Regions from separate parts of the Homo sapiens genome. Here regions 1 and 3 are each reported to be linked to region 2. Evidence: microRNA targets listed by miRTarBase, many of them from high-throughput screens and not tested one by one. Region 2 holds a microRNA gene; each other region holds the end of a gene's coding sequence. Distances are between the middles of the regions.
The links. Region 2 holds the annotated microRNA hsa-miR-6839-5p (UCUGGAUUGAAGAGACGACCCA, at 5,129-5,150, opposite strand). A microRNA usually pairs through its seed, bases 2 to 8, with sites in the 3' UTR of a target mRNA and lowers its output. Matches are read on the target gene's strand: a 7mer-m8 pairs with bases 2 to 8, a 7mer-A1 pairs with bases 2 to 7 and ends in A, and an 8mer does both.

Region 1 (7,383 bases), 41 Mb from region 2:
CAGACACCTGATGAGAATGACCAAGTGGTTGTCAAAATAACTGGTCACTTCTATGCTTGCCAGGCAAGTGGGCTCTAAAATAAGCTATTGTATCTTTCTCACGTGGAAGCAATTCTCCCACAGGTGCTCCTACCTGATAGAATTAGTTAAGGTTGTTTGATGCTTAAGACTTTTCATCTCCCTTTTAGCGGGTGATTTCAGAGACTACTAGCAAACTGACTAGTATGTATCTTTAATCATCAAATGGATTTCTATTTGAAATTGTTGAAATGAAGGAGTACAATAACTTTTAGTAGCTTTTGATCAAGTGGAATTTCAAAGCTCTGTCCTTTTCTAGGTTGCCCAGAGAAAAATTCAGGAAATTCTGACTCAGGTAAAGCAGCACCAACAACAGAAGGCTCTGCAAAGTGGACCACCTCAGTCAAGACGGAAGTAAAGGCTCAGGAAACAGCCCACCACAGAGGCAGATGCCAAACCAAAGACAGATTGCTTAACCAACAGATGGGCGCTGACCCCCTATCCAGAATCACATGCACAAGTTTTTACCTAGCCAGTTGTTTCTGAGGACCAGGCAACTTTTGAACTCCTGTCTCTGTGAGAATGTATACTTTATGCTCTCTGAAATGTATGACACCCAGCTTTAAAACAAACAAACAAACAAACAAAAAAAGGGTGGGGGAGGGAGGGAAAGAGAAGAGCTCTGCACTTCCCTTTGTTGTAGTCTCACAGTATAACAGATATTCTAATTCTTCTTAATATTCCCCCATAATGCCAGAAATTGGCTTAATGATGCTTTCACTAAATTCATCAAATAGATTGCTCCTAAATCCAATTGTTAAAATTGGATCAGAATAATTATCACAGGAACTTAAATGTTAAGCCATTAGCATAGAAAAACTGTTCTCAGTTTTATTTTTACCTAACACTAACATGAGTAACCTAAGGGAAGTGCTGAATGGTGTTGGCAGGGGTATTAAACGTGCATTTTTACTCAACTACCTCAGGTATTCAGTAATACAATGAAAAGCAAAATTGTTCCTTTTTTTTGAAAATTTTATATACTTTATAATGATAGAAGTCCAACCGTTTTTTAAAAAATAAATTTAAAATTTAACAGCAATCAGCTAACAGGCAAATTAAGATTTTTACTTCTGGCTGGTGACAGTAAAGCTGGAAAATTAATTTCAGGGTTTTTTGAGGCTTTTGACACAGTTATTAGTTAAATCAAATGTTCAAAAATACGGAGCAGTGCCTAGTATCTGGAGAGCAGCACTACCATTTATTCTTTCATTTATAGTTGGGAAAGTTTTTGACGGTACTAACAAAGTGGTCGCAGGAGATTTTGGAACGGCTGGTTTAAATGGCTTCAGGAGACTTCAGTTTTTTGTTTAGCTACATGATTGAATGCATAATAAATGCTTTGTGCTTCTGACTATCAATACCTAAAGAAAGTGCATCAGTGAAGAGATGCAAGACTTTCAACTGACTGGCAAAAAGCAAGCTTTAGCTTGTCTTATAGGATGCTTAGTTTGCCACTACACTTCAGACCAATGGGACAGTCATAGATGGTGTGACAGTGTTTAAACGCAACAAAAGGCTACATTTCCATGGGGCCAGCACTGTCATGAGCCTCACTAAGCTATTTTGAAGATTTTTAAGCACTGATAAATTAAAAAAAAAAAATTAGACTCCACCTTAAGTAGTAAAGTATAACAGGATTTCTGTATACTGTGCAATCAGTTCTTTGAAAAAAAAGTCAAAAGATAGAGAATACAAGAAAAGTTTTTGGGATATAATTTGAATGACTGTGAAAACATATGACCTTTGATAACGAACTCATTTGCTCACTCCTTGACAGCAAAGCCCAGTACGTACAATTGTGTTGGGTGTGGGTGGTCTCCAAGGCCACGCTGCTCTCTGAATTGATTTTTTGAGTTTTGTTTGTAAGATGATCACAGTCATGTTACACTGATCTAAAGGACATATATATAACCCTTTAAAAAAAAAATCACTGCCTCATTCTTATTTCAAGATGAATTTCTATACAGACTAGATGTTTTTCTGAAGATCAATTAGACATTTTGAAAATGATTTAAAGTGTTTTCCTTAATGTTCTCTGAAAACAAGTTTCTTTTGTAGTTTTAACCAAAAAAGTGCCCTTTTTGTCACTGGATTCTCCTAGCATTCATGATTTTTTTTTCATACAATGAATTAAAATTGCTAAAATCATGGACTGGCTTTCTGGTTGGATTTCAGGTAAGATGTGTTTAAGGCCAGAGCTTTTCTCAGTATTTGATTTTTTTCCCCAATATTTGATTTTTTAAAAATATACACATAGGTGCTGCATTTATATCTGCTGGTTTAAATTCTGTCATATTTCACTTCTAGCCTTTTAGTATGGCAAATCATATTTTACTTTTACTTAAGCATTTGTAATTTGGAGTATCTGGTACTAGCTAAGAAATAATTCTATAATTGAGTTTTGTACTCACCATATATGGATCATTCCTCATGTATAATGTGCCCCAAATGCAGCTTCATTTTCCAGATACCTTGACGCAGAATAAATTTTTTCATCATTTAGGTGCAGCTTGTTGTGTAGTATGTTTTATTTTTGGTTTTCAATTGAATGGGAATGTTCTGAATTTTTTTTCAAACTCTACGCAGATTTCTGTTATACCATGTCCAGCCATGGTACTTAATGTGAACCTTGATAATACTCTTGCATATGAACTAAGAACTAGAGCGTTCAGAGTTTTTCCTAACAAACACTTTGTTTACTTTCTTGTGTTACTGGAGTATTCTGGAAGGGTTACAGAAGTCCTCCTAGAAGAATATTATCACCTCAAAGTATAAAAATAAGACCAGTGGGCTATGTTTTATATTATTTTTTAAAATTTTTGCCATTCCATTAAACAAACAGGGTTAAGATTTACATTTAAGCTAAATTAAATTAATAAAAATCTGAGCAGAGAAGTCAAGCACAGGAGCCAGTGCTAACTCCAGGAAATTCTGATGACATTTCCAGGATAAAGGCAGCGTGTCATAAGTTTTGGGTAGAATGTACTGATTTTTGGTTGCAGGTATAGCTCACTTATCGACAGTCTCTGCATGCCAGTTAGCAGGAGTGCCCATGAGGTACACAAGCCTTGTCCTAAGAGCAGCCTAACCAAGGAGACGGACTTTAGGAGCTGTATTTTCCAATAAGTGACTCAATCCAAATCTGAAATGACTAACGCAGTGCATAAAATATTTTATTCACATTTTAACTCCACTGGAGTCACAGATGAAGTATCATCTTCTATTCCAAGAATGAAGTCTTCAGGTACTGTCTCAGGTGCTATCTGAGCTAACTGGTCATCATAAGAACGTAGGGTCCATAATTTCTCTAATTCATAGATTTCTCTGGTTTCTGGAAGCATCAAATGAATCACCATGCTGCCTGTCAGGGACAGATAAGAGATACAATGAAGGAATAGTTCATTTGCTTTTATTCTTACCTTACAACACACACTGGCTAACTCTAGGAATAAAGCAGTGGTTCTCAAGTGTGGTTCCCAGATTAGCATCACTGTGGACTCCATCCCAGCAAAAATACCACAGAAGTGATGCTATGCCTTTCTCAGTGTACCTACAGGAGGCATATGTCAATATATAACATTGCTGGTGATAGTAACTTTATCAAAGAGACTAATGGTGTCAGGATTCTCTTCGGTGACAATTCTCCATGGGTAACACACTTCTGCACATCTTTTGTGCAAAAACACTGACTGCCTTTTGTTTTGACTATCCAAGAATGTTTGTATCGTGAATATTCTTAACAGAAAGATACTGCCTCCCTCCAGGGCAAAGGGCAGCTTTGCTTACAGCAGCATTTCTCAATTAGGTAATAATGGTAATGTTTAGAGTCATTTTTGATTGTCACAATTGGAGAAGGGAGGATACTGCTAAACATCGTACCGTGCACAAGAGACACCCCTCCCCCACATGCAAAATTACCTGGTCCAAAACGTTAATAGCGACAAAAGTGAGAAACCATCAGAGCAAAAGTAGGCCTGCTTCCTGCCAGTTATAAAAAACCTAGACACCCTCATCTGAGTTCCAGTTTTACAACTGTGTGTGCTGGTGTCATCTGGCCCATGTTGCCCTATGGAATCCAGAGCTCAGGAAACCAGTGCAAAATGGATGCTGGCTACTGCTGTGAGTAATAAACTGTTCTTTGTCTCTAACCCTCTAATAGTCTTGTCTTTTACCAGTGTCCATGAAAACTGGCGGGACAATGTATTAGCTTACAAGCAGAATAAAATCTCAGACTCCTCAGTTCTTGACATACAGTTATGTTTCCCCTTTGTAAATATTATCTTGTTGGGAGGTGCTTTGAAACTATGTACACATTAATACCCAAAGTTGTTAGATCTTTTCAAAATTCTAGTCTTCTGCTCTTGTCCTTTTTTGTGCCTGGAATAACCTCATCCTCATCTCATTTATGCACCACAGCCCCCAAACCTTCCTCTACCACTACTAAGGAATCTCTCCCGCCTCTACTATGTTATCCTGTTGTCCACCACCTTCCTGATCTGTGTGGCTAGTAGATACACACCATGTAGTATATATCTTCCTCCAGGAGGGCATCATCTAGGGTACTTTGGTTTGGTTAGGTGAAAATTCTACATGTGAATAAGACCACCTGGATTATAACTAAAAAAACTTTTGTTACCTTAAACACACTTCAAAAATCTTACCTGGAAATACATTCATCAATTTGATCTCAATCCTTTTGCAACTGAAAACAATTCAAGATTAGCGTAGTACCAACAGTTACCTGTAAAATACGCCAGAATAACTTACCAAAATCCACGCACAGCCAGTCATCAGTGTCCTTCCCTTCTATCTTAACATGAGGGTCACGTTTACATTTCAGGTGTTTGTACTGCAAAAAGCCAGGTGGTTTATTAAAGGGAGAGGGGATGGGGGAAGCCTGTTCTTGCTGAAGGTCTTTTTTTTTTGTTTGTTTGTTTGTTTTTTTTAATCTTTCTTACTCATTTCTCATTGCTATACTTTGCCCTGTGATGAATAACTTAGGGAAACTATTTCTCCCTCTAAATCTTATTCACTTTCACCTCTCTCCTGAATTCTCCTGCCCCAGCCCTTCTGAGAGGGTCACCCCATTCATTCACCAAGGTGCCTCTGAGGCTGAAAAAGCTAAGCTCAGTCAGCATTTGGTACCCACCTACATCCATCACTTGTGTTCATCCCAGCTTTCCTTCACCTTTAGGGGCTGCAGATACTACCTTCTGTTTATAAAGCCAGGTTGTTTCAGTGCCACTGATTTCATCTCATCTGCCTTTATGACATGTTAATGGGACCCCGTCATCCTATAAATGTGCTCAGTTCTTTTGTTAAAACAGATATACTAATATCAAACAAGATGGCAATTAAGTAAAAACTGTTACAAGAGACAAAGGACATCTCATATACATCACCCCAAAATCAAAGGAAATGATAATTAGGGCAGGAAAAAGACAAAATCAATGAAACTAGGATTTGGTTCTTAGAATGACTAAGAAAAAAGACAACTAAAATCTGAAATGAAAGAAGTGACACTACTGATTTTAGAGAAATGGGATTGTAAGAGTATTATGAGCAACTGTACACCAAACAACTGGGTAACCTAGACGAAATAGCAAAATTTCTAGAAACACAATCTACTGACTGAATCATGCAGAAATATAAAGTTTCAATAGACCATAACTAGTATGGGGACTGGATCAGTAATCAAAAATCTCCCAACAAAAGTCCTAGACCAGATGGCTTCCCTGATGAGTTTTACCAAATATTTAAACAAGAATGCAATACTCAAATTCTCCCCAAAAAATTGAAGAACAGGGAACACTTCCTAACTCATTCCATAAGACCAATAACCCTGATGAACATTTGATGCAAAAATCCTCAACAAAAATACTAGCAAACCAAACTCAGCACCATATTAAAAGGATTATAGACCATGACCAAGTGGGATTTATCCCTGGAATGCAAGGTGGTTCAACATATAAAAACGGATCAATGCAATAACACCACATTAACAGAATGAAGAAAAAATCTATATGATAATCTGAACTGACGCAGAAAAAGCATTTAACAAAATTCAATACCCTTTCACAATAAAGCACTCAACAAAGTGGGCATAAAAGGAAATTACCTCAACATAATAAGGGCCATGTGAGAAAAGCACACAGCTAATATATTCAATGGTGAGACTGAAAGCTTTCCTGTAAGATCAGGAACAAGACTATGCCTGCTTTTGCTACTTCTATTCAACACAGTATTGGAAGTTCTAGTCAGAGCAATTCGTCAATAAAAAAAAAAAAGGTACCCAAATTGGAAAGGAGGAAGTAAAATTATCTCTGAAGACAATACAACTTCATATGTAGAAAACCCCAAAGATTCCACAAAAAAAACCCAGTTAGGGCTACTAAACAAATTCAGCACACAAAAATCCATCGTATTTCTATACACTAACAATGAGCAACCTGGAAACAAAGTTTTTAGAATTCCATTTACAATAGCAGAATAATACTTTTTTTTTTTTAATTGAGACGTTCTTGTTTTGAGTTTCGCTCTTGTTGCCCAGGCTGGACTATAATGGCGCAATCGCGGCTCACAGCAACCTCCACCTCCCAAGTTCAAGCGATTCTCCTGCCTCAGCCTCCCAAGTAGCCGGGATTACAGGCATGCGCCACCACGCCCGGCTAATTTTGTATTTTCAGTAGAGACGGGGTTTCTCCATGTTGGTGCGGCTGGTCTTGAACTCCCGATCTCAGGTGATCTGCCTGCCTCGGCCTCCCAAAGTGCTAGGATTACAGACATCAGCCACCGTGAGCAGCCTAGCAGAATAATCTTAACCACAGGAGCAAAAGACTTGTACAATGAAGACTACAAAACACTGCTGAAAGAACTTACAGATGCCAGTAAATGGAAAGATACTTCATATTCATGGATGGGAAGACAATATTGTAAAGATGCCAATACTACCCAATGCAGTCTACAGATTCAGTGCAATCTATATCAAGATCACAATATTTTTTGAAGAAACAGAAAAATCCAACCTAAACTTTATGTGGGGCCAGACACGGTGGCTCACACCTGTAATCCCAGCCCTTTGGGAGGCCAAGGCGGGTGCATCACCTGAGGTTAGGAGTTTAAGACCAGCCTAGCCAAAATGGTGAAACCTCATCTCTACTAAAAATACAAAAAATTAGCTGGGCATGGTGGCGGGCACCTGTAACCTCAGCTACTTGGGAGGCTGAGGCAGGAGAATTGCTTGAATCTGTGAGCCGAGATTGTGCCACTGTACTACAGCCTGGGCAACAAAAGCGAAACTCC
Region 2 (7,383 bases):
GAATGGGCTATACCTGGTAGGTTCATGGGCGGTGGCTCAGATCCTGAGAAGCACAAGTGGTAGGAGAACAGTCCAGTCCTTTCGGAGTTGGAGGGTGAGTTTTTAAGAGGCCGTTGGCTCTTTCAACCTTTCCTGAGGAATGAGGATGGTATGGGGTGTGGAGATTCCACTGGATGCCAAGGGCCTGGGAAACTGCCTGGGTGATTTGGCTAATGAAGGCTGGACCACTGTCAGATTGGATGGAAGTAGGGAGGCCGAAACAGGTAACAATATCTGTTAGAAGAGAGGTAAAAACTGCTGCAGCCTTTTCAGATCCAGTAGGGAAGGCCTCGACCCATCTGGTGAAGGTATCAACCCAAACTAGGAGGTACTTATATTTTTTGACACGAGGCATATGAGTGAAGTCAATTTGCCAATCTTGTGTAGTAGTAAACCCTCAGGCCTGATGTGCTGGGGAAGGAGGGGGCCTAAGAAAACCTTGGAGTGGCAGACAGAACATTAAGAAGTGATTGTTTAAGGACGGACTTCCATGATGAGAAAGAAATAAGGGGCTCTAGGAGGCGAGCCAAAGGCTTGTATCCTACATGGAAGCGGTCATGGAGGGATAAGAGAATAGATTGCGCTTGTGAGGCAGGAAGAAGGAACTTTCTATGATCTAAGAACCACTTGCCTTGTGAGTTGGAAAGGACTAGCAGAGCAGGTTTTCAGAAGAAGAGTAGTAGGTAGGGATAATAGATGAGAAAGAAATATACTGGTCTTTTGGAGCAGAGACTGGAACGTCTGCAGACACTGAGGTGTTTGCCACCTCTTTTGCTGTTTTACTGGCATGGGCATTTCCTTTAGTGATAGGGTCTGTTGGTTTTTGGCATCCTCTGCAGTGGACAACTCCAGCCTTGGCTGGCAGAAGAGCAGCCTTAAGGAGGGCCTTTATGAGAAAGGCATTGATAATGGAAGACCCTTGTGTGGTTAGAAAACCTCTTTCCACCCAGATGGCAGCACTGTGATGAAGGATGTGGAAAGCATACCTGGAATCAGTATAAATATTGACGTGCATTCCCTTAGAGAGAGACAGCGTGAGTTAAAGCAATTAGTTCAGCTTGCTGAGAGGTGGTGGAGGGTGGAAGTGCAGCAGCCTCGATAACAGATGTGTGGGACACAACAAATAGCATAACCTGCCTTGGCTGGCGAAAATTGGTTGGGTCTTGAAGAACTACCATCAATAAACCAAGTGTGATCTGGGTTTGGGACTGGAAAAACAGAAATGTGAGGAGAGGGGGAGGATGCCATGTGTATTAAGGAGATGCAGTCATGTGGCTCAGGACATGTGTTGGGTGCTAAGTGAAAGGCTGGGTTGAAACTGGGTCCAAGAGCAATGGTTAGCATGGGGTTTAAAATAAAGAGTGAATAAAGCTGGAGGAGATGGGAGGAGAGTAGTTGTGTGAGGTGAGAGGAAGAAATGAGACTCTGGAGGTTGTGAGCGCTATAGAGGGTAACTGGGGTGTAACCAGTGATTTTGAGGGATTCTAGGAGTATTAGGGCAGTGGCCGCTGCAGCATGTAAACAGGGCAGCCAGCCTAGGACTGTGAGGTCAAGTTTAGATAAGTAGGCCACTGGTCGTGGGCCTGGCCCTTGTGTTAGGACCCCAACTGCACATCCCTTTACCTCTGCCATGTAGAGAGAAGGGCTGGGTGGAGTCGAGGAACGCCAGTGAGGAGGCTGTCTCAAGAGCTTTTTTCAGGGAGTGAAAGGATGAATGAGGGAAGGTTTGGGGTCTATGGGGTCAGCTAGGTTGCCTTTTGTAAGCTTATAAAGGGGTTTTGTTAAGAGGGCAAAACCAGGTACCTAGAGGTGGAAGTACCCAATGATGCCTAGGAAGGAGAGAAGCTGCTGTTTTTGAAGGGACTGGGGTCTAGGAGATTAGGTGAATACGGTCAGCGGGGGGAGTGCGGGTGTGCTGATGGAGAATTATGCTGAGACAAATAACAGAAGGGGAAGAAATTTGAGCTTTAGAAGGGGACATTCGGTACCCTTTAGAGTCTAAATGCTGAAGGAGTAGGAGGATATTCTGTTGGGAGGATTCCTAGGAGAGACTGCAGAGATCATCGACATACTGGATGAGGTAGGAAAAGGAAGGCTGAAAAGAGAGTAGGTCGCAGGCAAGGGCTTGGCTAAAATAATGAGGGCTATTCCGGAAGCCCTGGGAAGAATGGTCCAGGTTAGTTGTTGGGACTGATGGGTGTCAGCGTCAGTCCAGGTGAAGGCAAAAAGAGGTTGAGAGGAGGGATGTAGGGGAATGGTGTAGAAGGCATCTTTTAGGCTGAGAACGGAATAATAGGTAGTGGTGGGAGGTATTCTGGACAAGAGAGTATATGGGTTTGGCACTATAGAATGGATGAAAAGTACAATCTGATTGATGAGACGAAGGTCTTGAACTAATATGTAGGACTTGTCTGGTTTTTGAAAGGGAAGGATGGGAGAGTTAATGGGTACTAAGAGGCCATGTTGTAAAAAGTGGGTAAAAAGGCTTTAGGCCTTTTAGGGGTGGCATAGGGATAGGATACTGGCATTGGGCAGGGTAAGGATGGTTTGGCCTTAAAGGGATGATAAGGGGGGAGTGATCTGTAGCAAGGGAGGGAGAGATGATATCCCAGACCCTGGGGTTGAGGAAGGGAGACGTTAGAGGAGCTTGTGGGGATGGTGAAGGGTTGGGGAGAAGGGTGGCAAGGAGGTGTGGCTGTAGCCTAGGAATAGTGAGGGAGGCAGACAGTTTTGTTAGGATGCCTCAGCCGAGGAGAGGGACTGGACAAGTGGGGATGACTAAAAGGAGTGCAAAAAGGAGTGCTGATCTAGTTGACACACAAGTGGAGTCTGGAGAGGTCTGGAGGCTTTGCCGTCAATTCCCACAACAGTCATGGAGGCTAGGGAGACAGGTCCCTGAAAGGAGGGCAGGGTGGAGTGAGTGGCCCCCATATCGATCAAAAAGGGGATGGACTTACCCTCCACCTTAAGAGTTACCCGAGGTCCATGATGGTCCATGGGGCCTCCGAGGTGTTCGGGCAGTGTCATTCCTCAGCCGCCAAGCCGAGGAGATCAGAGAAGGAGTCAGCCAGGGGGCTGTGGGGTTAAGCTCCAGGAGCTCTAGGGATGGCAGCTTGAGTTGGACAGTCTGACTTCCAGTGAGGGCCTGCACAAACAGGGCATGGCTTAGGAGGAACCCCAGGCTGCAGGCATTCCTTGGCCCAGTGACTATTTTTATGGCACTTGAAGCATGGCCCTGGAGGGGCTGCTGGGCGCTGCGGTCTGGATGCCTTGAAATCCCTACAGGCCATTGGTGTGGCTGGGGTTCGTCTTACGGCGGAGGCAAGCATCTGTAATTCAGAAACACGCTGCCACCAGGTAGCCTCTTCCCTGTTACTGAACACCTTAAAGGCAAGGTTAATTAAATCCTGTTGTGGGGTTTGAGGGCCAGACTCTAATTTTTGAAGTTTTTTTCTAATGTCGGGAGCTGACTGGGTAATAAAATGCATGAGTCGGCCTTCTGGCCCCTGGCCCTTCAGGGTCTAAAGCTGGATTTATGGCCAGATGGGCCACAAACTGGGCTGGATTTTCGTCCTTGCCCTGAGTGATTTCTTTTAACTTATCATAATTGACAGCCTTATACGCAGCTTTTTGGAGTCCCTCTACTAAGCAAGTGATCATATAATCTCGCCCGGCCATACCAGGAGATCCTGTTTGATAGTTCCACTGGGGGTCCTCACGGGGGACCTCCCTGGAGACCTGGCTCAAGGCGCCAGTGGTCACCTGCATAGGACTGAGCTAGGGCCCAAACACCCTCCCATTCTTCAGGAGTGAGTGTAGAAGTGAGGATGACATTTAAGTCACTCCAGGTGAGGTTATAAGACTGAGTTAAATATTGAAATTCCTGGATATATTTAGTGGAGTCTTATGGAAAAGAACCTAAACACTGGCTGACCTGAGACAGGTCAGACAGGGAGAAAGAAACATGAACTCGGACTATCCCTTCAGCTCCAGCCACCTCTCAAAGGGGAAATAGTGGGGTGGGAGGAGGGGGATTAGAAGTGGGACCAAATTGTCAGCCAGTTCGGGTATGGGGCAGAGTAGGGACAGAAGGGATATAGGGAGGCATGGTATGGGTAGAAGGGGGACTGGGGTCTGGAGAAGGGTTGGGACCGGAGTCGGACGGGCAGGGAGGAGAAATATCGGAAGGGTCTGTGGACAAGAAGGACTCGCTGTCGCCAGAGGGTGGTAGGGGAGCAGATGGGCGGGACAGAAGGAGAATTTGAGACAAATTGCATTGGGAACAAGGGCTGGGGAGGGACCGAAGTGTAAAACATGCCTGGATGTATGGAACCTCAAACCATTTGCCCATTTTGTGACAAAAGTTGTCTAAGTCCCACAAAATAGAGAAATTGAAAGTGCCATTTTCTGGCCACTGAGAGCCACTGTCTAATTTATATTGGGGCCAGGCCATATTACAGAAGAAAATGAGATGTTTAGGTTCCAAATCAGGTGAAAGACGGAGCGGTTTTAGATTCCTAAGGACACAGTCCAAAGGACAAGGAGGAGGAATGGAGGGTGGAAGGGTGCCCATAATGAACAGCGGAGGACTGAAGAAACAGAGAGACAGGGAGAGAGAAACGAGGAGGAGAGCAACCACAAGGACCTTCAGCAGGTGTCCCCATCTGGGTTGTGCAGTGGATGAGTGGCCAAGGCACATGTCCCTGTGGTTGACCAGTCACCTAGGGAAGCCTGTCTTCCCAGAGATAATCCATGACCAATGTTAGATTTAGGAAACACAGACAGTGAGTGTCCTCTCCTCTCTAAGAAAAGGAAAGTTTGAGAAAGGATGGAGGTCTCTTACCTATCCGAAGGCAGAGGCGGGGCTTTTACAGAGCTGGTCCGAGGTACCGAGGTCGCGGGTGGGTCTCTTCAAGAAGTCGGGGGAAGGGGTTAAGGGACACGACTCCCAAAGGAGTTCCCCTATCCCGGATTTCAGCATCAAATGTGTGTTATGGCACAGTCTGGATTGAAGAGAAAACCCAAGCAGGCTTCGTGTGAGCTCGCACCCAAGTGAATAAATAGCCTCACTGCTCACACAAAGCCTGCTTGGGTCGTCTCTTCAATCCAGACTACACCATAACACAAAGTAAGGTTCCTCTTTCATCTCTGCTGCTCTCTTATCTTCTAGCCATTGAATGGGAGATCTATACTGGAATATGCCTGACAATTTCCACCAAAACATTTTGATGAACAATTGGAATATGACTTTGTTAATATAGTGGAATATATTTGAGCTTGCATCATGGCTAAGTGAAGAGCTATTATGGTTTTTGAGTGGCCACATCACCCTTATTTGTCTTGTAATAGCAGCATTCCAATTTAGTGAAATAAAAGACACTAAAATCATGCTTCCCTAATATTATCTCTATTGAATAAACTAGTAAGCATATCATACTAATATCTACTATAATAATTTGGTAGTAAATTTTCTTTCACATTGGATAAAATACCTAAGTATAAATAATTTTAGTGTACTAGTCATAATGTATGTAGGATTTTAAAATATTGTCTGTAACCATAATTCAATTAAAACACTTTATGTTTTGAAAGTATGAATAACAATACTAAAATGACTAAGGGATTCATTCAAAGTAAATATTGTGGCCTTACATTTATACTAGTGTAGAAAATACTGTTCAATTGATATGAATGCAGTTTGTCTACAAATGCTACACCTAACTATGCTAATTGTTCTGAAGTAATAAATAGAAACCAAAGAACAACTACATACTCCACTGTTCGGTTCATACACTGAACCTCGCTTTTGCAATGGAAGTATTTTAGCCTGCAAATATTAGATAATTACGTTGGATAATCCATTTTCTGTCAAAGGAATTTACTCAGCATTTTTTAGTCCTCATTATTCAGTACTGCTAAATTTAATACTATCTTTGTGCTCAACTTTTGTGTGCTCTTAAAATGAGTTTTGATTTAAACAAATCTGTGTCTACTTTAAAAGATTAAAAAATTTTAAAAAATTTGCCAAAGCAAAAACAAAGCAATAAACCTGAGGTCTCAGATAAAGACAATCCCAAATCAAGAACAATGACCAAAAATTTATTTAGCTGTTAATATAATTTATGTATCGTTCAAAACAACAAAGACAAAAATCTATGTATAATTTAAATCCTTTAAGAAAAAAGAGATTAGCAAAATATCCTCCCTTATTTTTCACATAGGAGAATAAAGCCTCTTATTTCTAATTTTTATTTTCTCCTACAACAGACAGGTCTCTGGACATGTTTTTGAACTCCTGGACATCCTTTTTTTTTTTTTTTTTTTTTTTGAGACAGAGTCTTGCTCTGTCGCCCAGGCTGGAGTGCAGTGGCTTGATCTTGGCTCACTGCAAGCCCCGCCTTGCGGGTTCACACCATTCTCCTGCCTCAGCCTCCCAAGTAGCTGGGTCTATAGGCACCCACTACCACGCCCATCTAATTTTTGTATTTTTAGTAGAGACAGGGTTTCACCGTGTTAGCCAGGATGGTCTCGATCTCCTGATCTCATGATCCGCCCGCCTCGGCCTCCCAAAGTGCTGGGATTACAGGCGTGAGCCACCACGCCTAGCCGAACTCTTGGACATCTTAATTTTGCACACTGTATGCAACTGAAAGAATGTTATCAGAAAAAAAAATAGAAGAGAGAAAGGTGTTATAAAAAAAAAAATCCGGCGAGGTGCGGTGGCTCATGCCTGTAATCCCAGCACTTTGAGAGGCCAAGGCGGGTGGATCACCTAAGGTCATGAGTTCGAGACCAGCCTGACCAACATGGCAAAACCCCGTCTCTACTAAAAATACAAAAATTTGCCAGGCATGGTGATGCATGCCTGTAATCCCAGCTACTTGGGAAGCTGAGGCAGGTGAATGGCTTGAACCTGGGAGATGGAGGTTGCAGTGAGCCAAAATCATGCCACTGCACTCCAGCCTGGGCAACAAGAGTGAAACTCCATCTCAAAAAAAAAAAAATCCATGGGTATGTTAATCCAGAAAAATGACAAGACAAATCTCAATCATTTTAGGAGGTTTTTTGCCAAAGTTAAGGAGGTGTGCCCTGGAGACAAGTCTATGTCTTTCTTCTAAGATCATTTTGAGGACTTCATATTTAAAAGGAAAAGGGTGGGATGTTGGTAAGTATACAATTTTCATGTAAGAAGAGGATAGAAAAATACAGTCATTCATGCCTTTGTCTGGCTCAGTGAATCTGCATTTTTTTTAACATAAGATGACACAGACAAATAGGGCAGAAGAAAAATGCAGGGAACCTGAATTTTTACATAAGATAACATAGACAAAATGGGGCAGAGGA
Region 3 (7,383 bases), not on the chromosome of region 2:
GAGTGCAGCGGAGGCGGCGGGCTGGACTTCGGTGTGGGTGGTTGTGTGGGTTCTCTCCGTGTGTTTTGAGTTTCTGTGTATGTGGTTGTGGTTCCATGTATCCACGTGTGCCTAGCTGCCTGCGTGTCCCATGTCTGAGTGCGGGGTAGGGGATGAGCACACATCTTTCCCTGCTAGATCTGGACTCGGAACCCAGTCGGACCAGACCCCACCTGTGCTCCTGTCTTGGAAAAGTTCAGGGTGTGCCCTGAGCTGTGATGGCATCCCACACTTGGCCTCGGGTCCCTCAGCTTGATCTTCCCCACCTGTCTCCAAGACTGTGGCCTTCTCCATGGTACTTCTGCCTGCCCGCCTAGCAGATAGGAATTTCTTCCAAGTTCAAAGCTCTCCAGAGCAGGCATCTTTTTTTTTTTTTTTTTTTTTTTTTTTTTTTTTGAGAAGGAGTCTGTGTCGCCCAGGCTGCAGTGCAGTGGCGCGATCTCGGCTCACTGCAACCTCTGCCTCCCCAGTTCCAGCGATTCTCCTGCCTCAGCCTCCTGGAGTAGCTGGGACTACAGGCGCGGGCCACCACGCCGGCTAATTTTTGTATTTTTTAGTAGAGATGGGGTTTCACTATATTGGCCAGGCTGGTCTCCAACTCCTGACCTCGTGATCCGCCCACGTCGGCCTCCCAAAGTGGTGGGATTACAGGTGTGAGCCACCGCACCCAGCTTAACATCTTCTTCTTTGACTAGGTAATAACTCTACACAGCCAGGAAAGCATTCCTGATATCAAAACCCCTCCTGAAGCACTTCCAGCTCATTTTTTCTGTTCTGTCTTCAGAGAAAGAAATCTAGGAGCTAAAGGCCCAGCACAAAACAGCCTAGCTGGTTAATAAACATTTGTGGAAGGAGTGAACTGGAATTTGAACTCAAGACCTTGTAAAAGGGCAAAGCCTCCTCCATCCAACCGAGTCCTACCTAGGACTCTTGCAGGAACCACCTCTCTTGCTCCATATTGTTCTCTCCCTTAATGACCACCTGCTTTGGCATTGGGGAAACTCCTATGTCAACAGAAAGTGGAGATATATTCACTAACTACTGAATCCAAAACAGGCCACTAATCCAGGATCCCAGAATGTGAATTTTAATTTCAAAAAATTCTGGAGGTTGGAAGGAGGAGTGATCAGGAGAAGGTATTTACTCTGTTCTAAATACTGAGTGGAGGCTCCTCCTCTCCCAGTCAGAGAAGGAGAAAAGAAGTGAAATGGAAGGGCGAAGAAGCGGATGAACTGTCACAGCTAAGACTCCTAACATAAAAGAATTGCCAAGTTAGGTCAGCATTTAGATTCAGCAGAAGTATCAGCAGAACCAGCTCCCAGAAAGTACAGAGGCAGAAAGAGATGGCAGAGTCAGAGATGGAGAAAAAAGTGGAAATAATAAGGGACTTCCCACCCTCTGTCCATCTACCTTTAGCACACATCCCTTGGCTTTTCCCCAGACCCAGCCAAGAAATGGCTGCATCTGAGACCCTAGTCACACTCCTACACAGTCCATTTCTGAAAATTTGGGAGCAATCTCCTCCTTATCAACTGAAAATGAAATGGGCTGGAAACTACAAAAGAATTGCAAATTAGGATGGTGCTAAAGAGCTCTAATTAGTAAATTAGGATTAGAGCTAAGGAGTTTCCAAATTTAGGCAGGTCTTTAAACTAGAATAGGTGGGAAAGAGGCAAGACATACATCCAGAGGGCTCTCTCAACATTTCTTGTTAACACAGTGTCACATCCTGCTCTCCCAAGACCCCCTGCTCCTGATTCATTTTAAGGCTAATTCACACACACACACACACACACACACACACACGCACACACACACAAAGTTATTCGTGAAAGAGACATTAGAGTTCATCCACTCTAATTCCCTTCATTTAATAAATGGGAAAACTTCATAGACAACACAGTTTGATGGAAAAAGTAAAAATAAAAATAAATGAGAACTAAACTAACCCAGAAAAATTATAGGGTCTCACAGAGAGTAAGTGATAAAACCAGAGCCAAGTCTATCAGCCTTTTTCACTCTGTGGCTCCTTTCACTTTCTTTAGTCACCAGTCCTGGTGTTTAGTCTCAACCTCATTCCTCTTGTTGCAATACAATCCCATTTCTACCTTGCTGCGTCTCTAAACAGATAAGAATTGGGTATACTTGTTCCACTCTGAGGCTCAAAAGACAACTATTCTCTCCCTGTCTTTTCCTCTTGTCCTCATCCCCCACCTTTCCCAGGCTCCTTCTCATTCCTCTCCTTTTCAGCTTCTAAACTGCCCCCTACCCCTAGGAGGCTCTGCCTCCTCACTCCCCTAACCCCACAATCCTTTCCAACAAGCTTTGAGTTTGATAGAAACCAAAAATGATGCTTTGGCAGTAGGTGACGGATGGATGTGATCTGCCTCCTACGGGAATGCTATTTAAAGGGGCAGCCTCACAATCCTCTCCTTCCAAAGTGACAAGAGAAAAGTCTGCTCCTCAATCTCTCCAGAGCTGCAAACTCAGCTCAAGTTAACTTCTGACTTCCTCAACCTGCAACCTGGCCTGCTGCTCCTGCTTCCTATTCAAGTGGGAGGGAGAGTACTTGACAACTCATTGAGGTGTGGGGGCTGAAGGGGGATTCATCTTCATCTCCTTTGATGACAGGTACTTAGGAGAAGCAGGAGGCCCTGTGGGGAGGAGGACTGGAAGAACACTCTTCCCCCAACCGCGTGAGTGCATTTCAGCCATGTGCCAGCTTCTTCTCAAAGTCAAACTTTGTTGGAGAAGAACTAATATAAGCATGAGGACCTAAGGTTAAGGAAGCCTTGTCCCTAGCTGGGGGACACAGATATACCCTCCCTCCCTCCTGGATCCTGGTATTCACAGCACAGTTGTTCCCTTCCTGCAAAGCAAAGTGCTACAGGGCATCATCCCCTTGGCCAGGCCCTGGACCTTCTGCATTTTTTTTTTTTTTTTTTTTTGTGAGACAGGATCTTGCTCTGTCACCCAGACTGGAGTGCAATGGCATCATCTTCGCTCACTGCAACCTCTGCCTCCCGGACTCAAGCGATCCTCCCCACCTCAGCCTTCCAAGTAGCTAGGACTACAGGCAGGAACTACTACGCCCAGCTAATTTTCGTATTTTTTTGTAGAGACGGAGTTCGCCATGTTGACCAGGCTGGTCTTAACCTCCTTAGCTCAAGAGATCCACTGGCCTCAGCCTCCCAAAGTGTTGGGATTACAGACAACAGCCACCATGCCCAGCTAATTTTTTGTATTTTTGGAGAGACAGGGTTTCACTGTGTTGCCCAGAGTGGTCTCAAACTCCTGAGTTCAAGCGATCCGCCTGCCTCCCAAAGTGCTGGGATTACAGGGGTGAGCCACCACACCCAGTTCCTTCTGCACTTTGAAGCTGGCCCACCTGCCAACTGGATTGAACACCATGGCAGGGGAGGCAGTGTTTCTACTGTCCAAACAAAAGGGGGCACCTATGCAAGTATCTTGCCCCAGGCCTTGTGGGAGGCATAATTCCATCTCATTGCTGCAAGCAAGTTAATGGAGATGTTAATAAAAACACTACATTAATGAAAATGCTGAGGCTAGAACCTATTCTGTGCCTGTAAGACAAAACAATTGGGGTGAGATTTCTGATATCCATTCTTTAGTTCCTTTGGGCCTAAGTAAAGCAAACTTACAACCTGGGACACAACTTATTTTTTCCCAGGTTGTAAGAGGACAGAGACCCTCCTGGTAAAGGAAGCAAATTGCCTGAAATGCTGATGGGTCCTGTTACTTCTCTGTCCCTTCACCTCTGGACATTCACTTTTTGCTTCCGGTAGTAAAGGCCATCATGTCCTCACCTTCTCCAATTTGCTCCTTCTAAGGTCTCTGGATTCTAAAACCCAAGTCTTCCCTTGTGAAGAGGCAGACCGGGCAAGTAGAAAAGGTCTAGGACTGAACATCAGACTTGGGTCCCAGTTCTAGTTCTACTGCTAAACATGTGACCTTCATTAAGTCATTTAATATTTCTAAATCTGTTTTCTGACCTGAAATAGGAAAGCCTTCCCTGGCTACCTTGCAGAATTGCTATAAGGATGTGAAAGCACTTTGAAAAAGTATAAGTGGTAGAGAAATATGTGTGTATAATTATATGTTTACAAAAAGATATATCAAATGACAAAATTTTAGAAATAGAGAATATATCTGTGTTACCAGGAGCTAGAGATGGGGAAGGGGGTTGTGGGAGGAGAAAATTGCTATAAAATTGCTATAAAAGAGCAATGCGAGGGATCCTTGTGGTGATGGAACTGTTCTGTATCTTTTTTTAAATTATTATTTATTTTTTGAGACAGAGTCTCGCTCTGTCACTCAGCCTGGAATGCTGTGGCAGGATCTTAGCTTACTGCAACCTCCGCCTCCCGGGATCAAGTTATTCTGCTGCCTCAGCCTCCTGAGTAGTGGGACTACAGGCATGCACCACCACGCCCGGCTAGTTTTGGTATTTTTAGTAGAGACGGTGTTTCACTATATTGGCCAGGCTGCTCTCAAACCCCTGACCTCAGGTGATCCACCTGCCTTGGCCTCCCAAAGTGCTGGGATTACAGGCGTGAGCCACTGCGCCCGGCCTGTTCTGTATGTTGACTGCAGTGGCAGATACACAAACCTACACATGATAAAGCTGTATAGAAATAGATAACACACACACGTGCACACACAGAGAGAAATGAACATAAGCAAAACTGGGGAAGGAAATCTGAACAAGATCAGTAGATTATATCAATGTCAGTTATCCTGGTTGTGGCAGTGTACTACAGTTTTGCTAGATGTTAGCATTCAGGGAAACTGTGTAAAGGAAAATAGAATTTCTCTGTATGATTTCTTACAAGTGCAGGTGGATTAAGTATCTCAATAAAATTTTCAGTTTTAAAAAAAGGCATTCTGTCTACCCTCCATCCCCCTGCAGCAACTTGTCTTGCTGTCCTCTTAAGCAGTTCTATATGCAGATGCAGATGGAGGAGGGATCTCTATCCCCTCAAGCAGAAAAATATAAACATATAGAGTAGTTGTTCAGATACTTCTGAGCCTCCTCTTCCTCATCAACTTTACTCTCAGTCTCATAAGCCTGACACTGAATCACCCTTTAGAACATAAGCCCTTCCCATAGCAAGGAAGGAGGATTTGCTGATGCACGAAGCAGGATTCTCTATCGCTTCCACCCTAAAGAGCAGACAACTGTTGCTAAGAAAAATCTGTATGTTGATTATGGGTGCCAAGTTAAGAAAGTATTGACTAAGCCTGGGTCTCAAGAAATAAAAAGCAAACACATGTACAAAACCCCAAAACAGCTATCAAATAGGCTTCAGGAAGGCTGAATCGTTTTTGCTGAAAACCGACAACTGCTTCCCTTTCATCATGAAAGTATGGACATGACCCTAATTAACCAACTAGCTAATTATATTTGTCAATTCCAACCACTCTAGACCTGTGACATATATGATCTGTTTCTCCACTTCTCCCTGGCAGTGGATTCACAGAAGTGATGCATGGGGGCCACTATTTCCTGCCAAGGAGTTAAGTAAACCTAGTTTAGTGCTATCTTGAAAGCCCCCAGGCTCTGTGACGCTTGAAATTCTAATTAGCGCAGAAAAGGGCTAAGTTGAAACAGCTTGTACTCCCTCAAGGATACCCACTCTCAGGGCCATACAACCTAATGAGGTCTGTGAAATTTAAGATCCAGAAGAGAAATCCCTTCCTGGAGCAACAGCTATACCCAGGCTGACAAAAGGATTTGGGGTTAAATTAGTCCCTCCCAATAAAAGGCAGAGTACCCCCAAATGGTACAGGAGGGAAAACCCACCTAAGTCTGGGCCAATCAGTTGTCATGTAACCTAGAATTGACGGAGACTAACTGACCCTCTGCTCTGGGTTGTGGAGATATCAAAGCAGGAGGGGTTAAAGCAAGAGAGAACTTGTAACAAACAATGTAGTAGAGTAGGTGGGCAGTGAACATCTCTGAAGGGCACTTCCTCCTTGCCCCAGTAGGAAACGCAGTCAAGCTGGGGGCAAAGGAAGAGACCCAATGACCCCTCGAAGAGCCCCACAAAGGAAAAGAGGGGCTCCTTTGCTGCTACTCTGCAGTAGGAGCAGGTTGAATGTTTGCTGAACACATTTGAAAAAGGAAGAGAGAAGATAATGGTCCTAATGAATGTGCAGGAGACAATAGCAGCTCCAGTGGGAGGATTATAAGCTCATTATGATTTAATATGATGATTGATCATCTCTGCCCGCCAGCATTATCCTAAGAATAGTGATGAAGGTCGGAGAGGCCCATGCCTGTCAGAGCTCAAGCTCAAGTCACCAGAAGATAGAAAATATACTTGTACGTTACTCCTTTTTTCATTGTAAAATTCACACATGTGGCCCCACGCCCTAACTTTTTCCATAAGCTGTCCTCCATGCTCCCAGCCTGCCTCACTGCTCTACGATTTCTCAGCCCTGGATTGTTCTTCCACAGATCTGCTCATCAACTCTGGCTCCTGACCCTCTCTCCTTAGTGACCCCACCCCATTCCCACCCCCTGCGAAAGTGACCACAGCTTCCACTATGGCAAGGGTTTAGGAAGGTCCAAAGGGCTCTTCAGTGGGTACTGGCAGGCATTCAGTTTAGGTGGAAGGCCCGAGACACCTCCCGATAGGCATTTCGAAGCAGGACATAAGGGAAACAGGACTCCAGCATGTCCAGGGTCAGGAAGGATGACTCCTCCACCACCTGAAAGAGATGGGGCCAAGAGATGAGAACCTCAGGTAGGGCATTTGTCTGTGATACCCTGTTCCTTTTGCATAGTTCCCAGGCCCTCTGAGGCCCTGAGAGTTACAAGTGAACAGGGTTCCAAATCACACCCCCCTCTTCCCTCACTTGGTTTGGCTGCAGGAAGGCAATGTGGCATCTTCAGCTCCATTATCATTGACCCTGACCCCCTCATCAGGACTATGTGAAGGGCACAGAAGCAGACAGCAGGAGAGAACCACTTTCCCAGTGCAGCAAAACCCATTCTCTCCCATTCTGGATGCTAAATCACATGTGGGTGGGCAGCACACAGATGCAGGTAAAGATGTATAAAAGTGCTAATTACAAAGCTTTGCAGCAAGAGAAACAAACACCACTGCAGGCCACGGAAGGGGGCCTGGAATCCACATGGGTCCTCTTGTGTTGGGCCTCAGTCTCCTCCCTCTCTCAGTACAGTGCTTGGGGAACAGTAAGGATGCCGCATAAAGGAGCAGGCATGATTAATTAGTTTAATTAGAAGCCTGTGTGCTGCGGTAATCCCAGCAGCCCCCACAGCCAAGCAGGAAGATAGATCAAGATGCCCGGAGAAGA

Region 1: miRTarBase lists IGF2BP3 as a target of hsa-miR-6839-5p. Seed matches in the 3' UTR shown: 7mer-A1 at 519-525.
Region 3: the mRNA of NCKAP1L is a reported target of hsa-miR-6839-5p. Seed matches in the 3' UTR shown: 7mer-m8 at 6,502-6,508, 8mer at 3,894-3,901 and 7mer-m8 at 3,435-3,441.

The regions. Positions count from the first base shown.
Region 1 is chr7:23,305,415-23,312,797 of GRCh38, reverse strand. IGF2BP3 (insulin like growth factor 2 mRNA binding protein 3) reads left to right here. Exons shown (of 15, transcript NM_006547.3): 14 at 1-63; 15 at 338-2,589. The coding sequence ends at 436. MALSU1 (mitochondrial assembly of ribosomal large subunit 1) reads right to left here. Exons shown (of 4, transcript NM_138446.2): 3 at 4,849-4,930; 4 at 1,069-3,442. The coding sequence ends at 3,255. Among named protein-coding and RNA genes, the nearest start is that of MALSU1, 9.8 kb to the right of the region's middle. RefSeq lists a silencer at 4,221-4,421.
Region 2 is chr7:64,676,836-64,684,218 of GRCh38, reverse strand. It overlaps MIR6839 (microRNA 6839), which reads right to left and starts at 5,155; the gene lies at 5,043-5,155. The region is part of intron 1 of ZNF107 (zinc finger protein 107); the gene reads right to left. It also overlaps the pseudogene BNIP3P11.
Region 3 is chr12:54,541,966-54,549,348 of GRCh38, reverse strand. NCKAP1L (NCK associated protein 1 like) reads right to left here. Exons shown (of 31, transcript NM_005337.5): 31 at 1,106-6,774. The coding sequence ends at 6,664. Among named protein-coding and RNA genes, the nearest start is that of PDE1B, 3.9 kb to the left of the region's middle. RefSeq lists an enhancer at 2,346-2,890.